Homo sapiens: one gene and its partner. The protein of the gene in region 2 purifies or fractionates together with the protein of the main gene of each other region. This does not show direct contact. Each region holds a gene or a part of one and is shown on either strand. Other genes may lie near its edges. The genes, in order: MAP4K1 and HCLS1.

What was found.
Region 1: the proteins of HCLS1 (region 2) and MAP4K1 purify together in Homo sapiens (affinity purification with western blotting, with the first as the bait; one study listed by BioGRID). This does not show direct contact.

Annotation. Positions count from the first base shown.
Region 1 is NC_000019.10:38,586,888-38,590,617, forward strand, and holds the end of MAP4K1 (mitogen-activated protein kinase kinase kinase kinase 1), read right to left. Parts: intron 2,389-3,730; coding exon of another isoform or gene 2,291-2,388; intron 931-2,290; coding exon 861-930; 3' UTR 754-860; downstream 1-753. Other genes in the region: RYR1 (ryanodine receptor 1), read left to right, coding at 438-533. UniProt on the Homo sapiens protein: Serine/threonine-protein kinase, which plays a role in the response to environmental stress. Appears to act upstream of the JUN N-terminal pathway.
Region 2 is NC_000003.12:121,650,793-121,654,615, forward strand, and holds part of HCLS1 (hematopoietic lineage cell-specific protein), read right to left. Parts: intron 1-3,823. UniProt on the Homo sapiens protein: Substrate of the antigen receptor-coupled tyrosine kinase. Plays a role in antigen receptor signaling for both clonal expansion and deletion in lymphoid cells. May also be involved in the regulation of gene expression.

The DNA of each region.
Region 1 (3,730 bases), on a different chromosome or scaffold from region 2:
TTGAACCCAGGAGGCAGAAGTTGCAGTGAGCCAAGATCATGCCACTGTACTCCAGCCTAGGTGACAGAGCGATACTCCATCTCAAAAAAAATGGGTTTGGGCTGGGCGTCCTGGCTCACGCCTGCAATCCTAGCACTTCGGGAGGCCACAGCGGGAGAATTGCTTGAGACCAGAAGTTCAAGACAGCCTAGGAACACAGCGAGACCCTTTCTCTATTAAAAAATTAGCCAGGGGTGGTGGTGTGCACCTGTAGTCCCAGCTACTCTGGAGACTGAGGTGGAGAATCGCTTGAGCCAGGAGGCTGTAGTGAGCTGTGATTGTCGCCACTGCACTCCAGCCTGGGCAACAGAGCAACACCCTGTCTAAAAATATATATATATATATGTCTCAAGGGTTTGAAGATGTGACCAATGAACTCTTTCTATCCCCAATCCTAGGAGTCTTATGTCTGGAAGATGTACCAAGAGAGATGTTGGGATTTCTTCCCAGCTGGTGATTGTTTCCGTAAGCAGTATGAGGACCAGCTTAGCTGACACACCCCCAGCTGGCCCTCCACCCCCACCTCAAGTGCCTTATTCTCACAGCAAGCCCCTTAGTCCCCAAGCCCCTCCCCCTAAGGCAGCTGGGGGAGAGGTGACCTAGTACTGGAAAATAAATCTGTGCTACGCCCCCCAGCATCACTGTGTTGGCCTGCTGAAATTTTGGAGGAGTGGACATCCAGGAATTGTTTCCCCCAAGAAAAACAAGATGACAGCAGAGGCTAAAGTCATGTTTATTGGGAGATGAGGACATGCCATGACCACTAGTGTGTCTATGGGGGAGGGGGTGCAAGGACTAGTTCCTGACACCCCCCTAGGGACTCATTCCTGGATGTAGAGGTTGCTGGGAGCAGTAGGATCATCCACTGGGCGTGTCTCCACCACTACAGGCCTGTGGAAGGAAGAGATAAGTCAGTTCATTTATTCATTCATATGTTCATTGATTCATTAATTCACAAAGTAGTTAATAGAGACTGTGCCAGCCCCATGCTGAACTATAGCAGTGAATGGGCAGACACGGTCCCTGCCCTTAGGAAGCTTGCATTCTAGAGAAGGAGATCAACATGAATCAGTGAATTACATGAGTGCAAAAAAGCATGGCATGTCTGGCAGGGAAACCTAACCCAGGAGGTCAGCCCAGACTCCCCAGAGAATGGATGGTGCAGCCTGAAGGGGGGTTAGGAGGGAACTTGGTGAAAGGGCAAGGAAGAGTGTTCTGGCTGGGGAGAACAGCCTGTGCAAAGGATTTGAGGTGGGAGAAAGGCTGGGACTTGGCTGGAGATGTCATGGCCTTGTGGGCTGTGGCCAGGATTGAGTCTTTATCTTGAGGCCATGGGAGGATTTTAAGCAGGGAGACAGTGACACGATCAGATTTGGATTTAAAGTGACCCTTCTGGCATGTCAAAAGGACACAGGGGCTACTTAAAGTGGTTCCCACTGGCTAAATTTAAGACCATTTGTGCCTCAAAATAAATAATGACAAGGCCGGGCATGGTGGCTCATGCTTGTAATCCCAGCACTTTGGGAGGCCAAGGGGGGCAGATCACTTGAGGTCAGGAGTTCAAGACCAGCCTGGCCAATATGGTGAATCCCATCTCTACTAAAACTACAAAAATTATCCAGGTCCATCCTGGCTAACACGGTGAAACCCCATCTCTACTAAAAATACAAAAAAAAATTAGCCAGGTGTGGTGGCAGGCACTATAGTCCCAGCTACTCGGGAGGCTGAGGCAGGAGAATGGCGTGAACCTGGGAGCCAGAGCTTGCAGTGAGCCGAGATAGCGCCAGTGCACTCCAGCCTGGGCGACAGAGCGAGCCTCTGTCTCAAAAAAAAAAAAAAAAATTTATCCAGGCATGGTGGTGCACGCCTGTAATCCCAGCTATTCGGGAGGCTGAGGCAGGAGGATCGATTGAACCTGGGAGGCAGAGGTTGCAGTGAGCTGAGATCACACCACTGCACTCCAGCCTGGGTGACAGAGCGAGACTCCATCTCATAAATAAATAAATAAATAATGACAGTAATAGACTATAACCCACAGAATAAAAATCCATGAGACCATGCTGGTATAAAGAAAGAAGAATGGAGAAGACACAGCTCTTCTTTAGAGTAGAATGCCAACTAACACACGCAGAAGGAAACATAGAATCAGAAAATCACCATTTATTGTTAGTAGCCACCTAACAATAATAGATTCAGGGAAAAATCAATTGATTCTAAAACTAGTGGGCAGGCCAGGTGCGTTGGCTCAAACCTGTAATCCCAGCTACTCGGGAGGCTGAGGCAGGAGAATTGCTTGAACCTGGGAGGAGGAGGTTGCAGTGAGGCGAGATCGTGCCACTGCACTCCAGCCTGGGGGACAGAGTGAGACTCTGACTCAAAACAACAACAAAAGACAAACAAAAAACAATAAAACTAGTGGGTGAAAATCTGATGAGAAACAACGTATTTACAGACTATTTACCTCGTCTCAGTGAATCTCCCCAAAAGATACTTCTTTTTTTTTTTTTGAGACAGAGTTCACTCTTGTTGCCCAGGCTGGAGTGCAATGGCGCGATCTCGGCTCACTGCAACCTCCGCCTCCCGGGTTCAAGCGCTTCTCCTGCCTCAGCCTCCCGAGTAGCTGGGATTACAGGCATGCAACACCATGCCCGGCTAATTTTGTATTTTTAGTAGAGACAGGGTTTCTCCACATTGGTCAGGCTGGTCTCAAACTCCCGACCTCAGGTGATCCACCTGCCTCGGCCTCCCAAAGTGCTGGGATTACAGGCGTGAGCCACCGCGCCCGACCGGTGGGATACTTCTTATTACAAAGAAAAACAGAGGCTGGGTGCGGTGACCCCTGCCTATAAGCCCAGCACTTTGGGAAGCCTACACAGGTGAATCTCTTGAGTCCAGGAGTTCCAGACCAGGCTAAGTAACATGGCGAAACCCTGTCTGTACAAAAAATACGAAAATAAGCCAGGTGTAGTGGTACGCGCCTGTCATCCCAGCTACCCGGGAGGTTGAGGTGGGAGGACTGATTGAACCCAGGAGGTCGAGGCTGCAGTGAGCCATGATCGCGTCACTGCACTCCAGCCAGGGTGACAGAGAGAGAATCTATCTTTAAAAAAAAAGAAAAAGGGAGAAAAAAGCAACTTCACAGTGGAGAGAACTGGCTGATTCTACCTTAACCAAATGACCGAAGTTAATATCACCAGTAATGGGACAAACTAGCATTGTGTACTTCCTGAAATGATGCACTGAGAAAGACATCTTTCTGCAGTATTCCTGCCCAAAATTCAGAACGTGGAAACCTCAAACACAGTTAAGGGACATTTTAGAAAACAAATTTCCTTTAATTTTTAAAAAGGTCAAAGCTCCTTTAAGACAAAAGAAGTTTTAATTATTTTTTCCGGCTTAATTATAAAGAAACATGGCTCCTAAGTGCCACCTATGATCTTGGACCAGAAAAAAAAAAAAAAAAAAAAAATATATATATATATATATATATATATATATATATATATATATAATCACGGGCGTCACTAGGACAACGGGTGAAATTTTTTGTTGTTGTTGTTGTTGTTTTCTGAGACAGAGTCTCGCTCTGTCACCCAGGCTGGAGTGCAGTGGCGTAATCTCGGCTCACTGCAACCTCCACCTCTCCGATTCAAGTGATTCTCCTGCCTCAGCCTCCCAGCTGGGATTACAG
Region 2 (3,823 bases):
TAGACATCATCAGGATTAAGATCTTTTGCTCTTAAAAAGATGCCATTAATAAAATGAAAAAGTGGCCAGGTGTGGTGGCTCACGCCTGTAATCTCAGCACTTTGGGAGGTCAAGGCGGGTGGATCACAAGGTCAGGAGCTCAAGACCAGCCTAGCCACTATGGTGAAACCCCGTCTCTACCAAAAATACAAAAATTAGCTGGGCTTGGTGGTGGGCGCCTGAGTCCCAGCTACTCAGGAGGCTGAAGCAGCAGAATCGCTTGAACCCAGGAGGCAGAGGTTGCAGTGAGCTGAGATCATGTCACTGCACTCCAGCCTGGGCAACAGAGCAATCAATCAATAAATAATCAATCAATCAATCAATAAAGTGAAAAAGCAAGTTATGTTCTGGGAGAATACACTTGTAAAACACATATTTCACAAAAGACTTACATCCAGAATATATAAAGAACTTTCAGCAACTTAATAAAAAGACAAACAACTCACTTTAAAAGTGAGAAAAAGATGTGAACAGATACTTCATAAAGAAGATATATGAAGATATATGAATGGCAAATGAAAATATACTCAATAAAACTGGTCATCAGAGAAATTCAAATTAACTTAAAAGAGTGGTTAAGTTGGTTTTGTTGTTGTTGTTGTTGTTTTGTTTTGTTTGTCTTTTAGAGAGGATCTCAGTCTGTCACCCAGGCTGGAGTGCAGTGGGGCAAACATGGCTCACTGCAGCCTCAACCCCCTGGGCTCAAGTGCTTCTCCTGCCTCAGCCTCCTGAATAGCTCAGACCACAGCCAGCCAATTTTTAATTTTTTTGTAGACTCTGAATCTCTCCACATTGTCCAGATGGTCTTGAACTCCTGGGCTCAAGTCATCCTCCTGCCTTGGCCTCCTAAAGTGCTGGGATTACAGGCATGAGCCACTGCACCCAGCTAAATTTAAAAATACTAACAATAACAAATGTTGACAAAAATGTGGAGCATCTGAAACCCACACATTACTGGTAGGAATGAAAGAGGGTAAATTCCCTTTGGAAAAGAGTTTGAGAGTCTCTCAAAATGTTTAACATACACTTATTATATGACTCAGCAATTCTACTCCTGGCAATTTTCCAAGAGAAATAAGGATATGTCAACAAAAAGATTTGTACCCAAATGCCCATGACAGTTTCATTTGTAATAGATCCAAATTGTCAATAATCCAAATGGCTATTGACAGGATAATGAATAATAAAACTGTGACATATCCATACAATGGGACACTACATGACAATATAAAAGAACAAAAGACTTATATACACAACACCATGGATAAATCTGGAAAACATTATGCTGAAAGAAGACAACACAAAACAATACATTCTATATTATTCTGTTTGCATGAAATTCTATGCCAGACAAAACTAATCTATAGTGACAAAAAGATCAGTATGGGGTGTATTGACTGCAAAGAGGTGCAGGGAAATTTTCATGGTAATAGATATATTCTATATCTTGATTGCATTGGTGGTTATATTATATATATATAGTCAAAACTCATTGAACTATTTGCTTATAATGATTAGGTATCAATAAATTTAATTTTTGCCTGGGCAATGGTGGCTTACACCTGTAATCCCAGCACTGTAGGAGGCCGAGGCAGGCGGATCACTTGAGGTCAGGAGTTCAAGACCAGTCTGGCCAACATGGTTAAACCCCGTCTCTACTAAAAATACACAAATTAGCTGGGCAAGGTGGCACATGCCTGTAATCCCAGCTACTCGGGAAGCTGAGGTAGGAGAATCACTTGAAGCTGGGAGGCAGAGGCGGAGGTTTCAGTGAGCCGAGATCGTACCACTGCACTCCAGCCTGGATGACAGAGCGAAACTCCGTCTCAAAAAAAACAAAGTTAATTTTTGAAAAATAATAAAGTGAAGAAAACCTTAAATGAAAGAGACTTTGGGCACTCATAAAGAGGTTTGTTTATGAAGTGATTGTAGTATTATTAAGGCCAACTTATCAAGTACTTTGTCACTGTAAACAGAATAGCAAGCAGCCTTAGGGAATTGGCAATAGCTTAGTTCATGGGAATTTGCATTTCATTTCAACAAAAGAATTACGGACATGACGATATTATGTTTATTAGACAAAAACAATATATTGGTTAAGATTTCAGCCCATGGAGTCAGACTGAGCCGAATTCAAATTACTACAGGTTGACTATCCCTCATCCCAAACGCTTGGGACCAGAAGTGTTTTGGATTCAGGATTTTTTCAGGTTTTGGAATATTTGCATATACATAATGAGATATCTTGGGGACGAGACCCATGTGTAAACAGGAAATTCATTTATGTGTCATATACACTATATTAAGGAAGGTATTAAAGAAGAACTAAATAAATGAAGGTAACTTTATTTTTCCCTTGGGGACGCTGAAAAAACTGTTGTGCACCTGTATTTTGACTGAGACCCATCACATGTAGTCAGGTGTGGAATTTTCTACTTGTGGTATCATGTGGGCTTTCAAAAATTTCAGATTTTGGAACATTTTAGATTTTGAATTTTTGGATTAGGGATGCTCAACCTGTATCTCTGTATCCTCGGACAAATTGCTAAACATTAATATATCCATTCACTTTTCTGTGAAATCAGGATGCCAACGTCATCTATGATATAGGATTGTTTTTAAAAAGTACTCTGTGTTTTGCAAGACATATAATAGCTTAATAAATGTTAGTCATTATTCTTAAGTTATAGCCATGGCTCTTCCCAGTACCCCTGTGAGGTAAACAGGGATGGTACTATAATCTCCAGTCAGCGCTGGAAATCAAGATAGGATGGTAAAATATTATTACTCTCCTCAGCATCATAAGCCTTTTTACAGCAGAGCTGGAATCAGTCCCTAGAGCTCCAGAATTCTATTTCTATACTCTTGGCATTACACCATTCTTTATTTCCACTTGCTATAAAATGTCAGGGCACGAGAAGAGGACAGGGCCACTGAGGCAGACATCCTATGGTTATAGCTCAGTAAAGATTTAATCTAAAGGCCAGACTGGTTCCAGGAAGTGCTGAAAGATTATTCCAGAGCAGTGCCACTCAGTGTGTGGTCCACAAGCTGAACTGTTTCTGTTTCACAGGGAAATAAGAATAAAAATTGAGAATATGTGTTTAGAAACTTTTATAGCAATTTGACATAGTGATTTTATTCTTTTTCTTTTTCTTTTTTAGAAATGGGGTCTCACTGTTGCCCAGGCTGGAGTACAGTGGCTACTCACAGACACAATCCCACTACTGATCAGCACTGGAGTTTTGACCTGCTCCATTTCTGACCTGGGCAAGTTCACCCCTTCTTAGGCAACCTATGGTCCCCTGCTCCTGGGAGGTGGGAGGTCACTATATTGATTCAGAATTCAGCGTGGAGACCCAATCAGCATAGAGCACTATAGCCCAGAACTACTGGACTCAAGTGATCCTCCTGCCTCAGCCTCCTGAGTAGTTGGGTCTATAGGCACAGACTAGCATGCCTGACAACATCGTGATTTTATATCTGTTGAATTTAAAAATAAAAACTGTGTTTGTATTGTCTATGTTATTTTTAACCATTTATTTTTCCAGAAACTTAATTGTATTTTATTTTACAAAAGTATCAGTCTGTGACAGATTTGAAAATAAACAAACAGGTCAAGGGAAAAGACACCCTTGAGTCTTGAGAATGAATGGGCAAGAGTGGAGAAAAGAAGGTGGAGAGAAGGGTGATAGTTCTTGAAAACCAGGCAGTTCCTTTACAGAATGGATAAGGGATGCATAGGACCATTTGAATTATTCACTGAATTACCAAATTACTATCC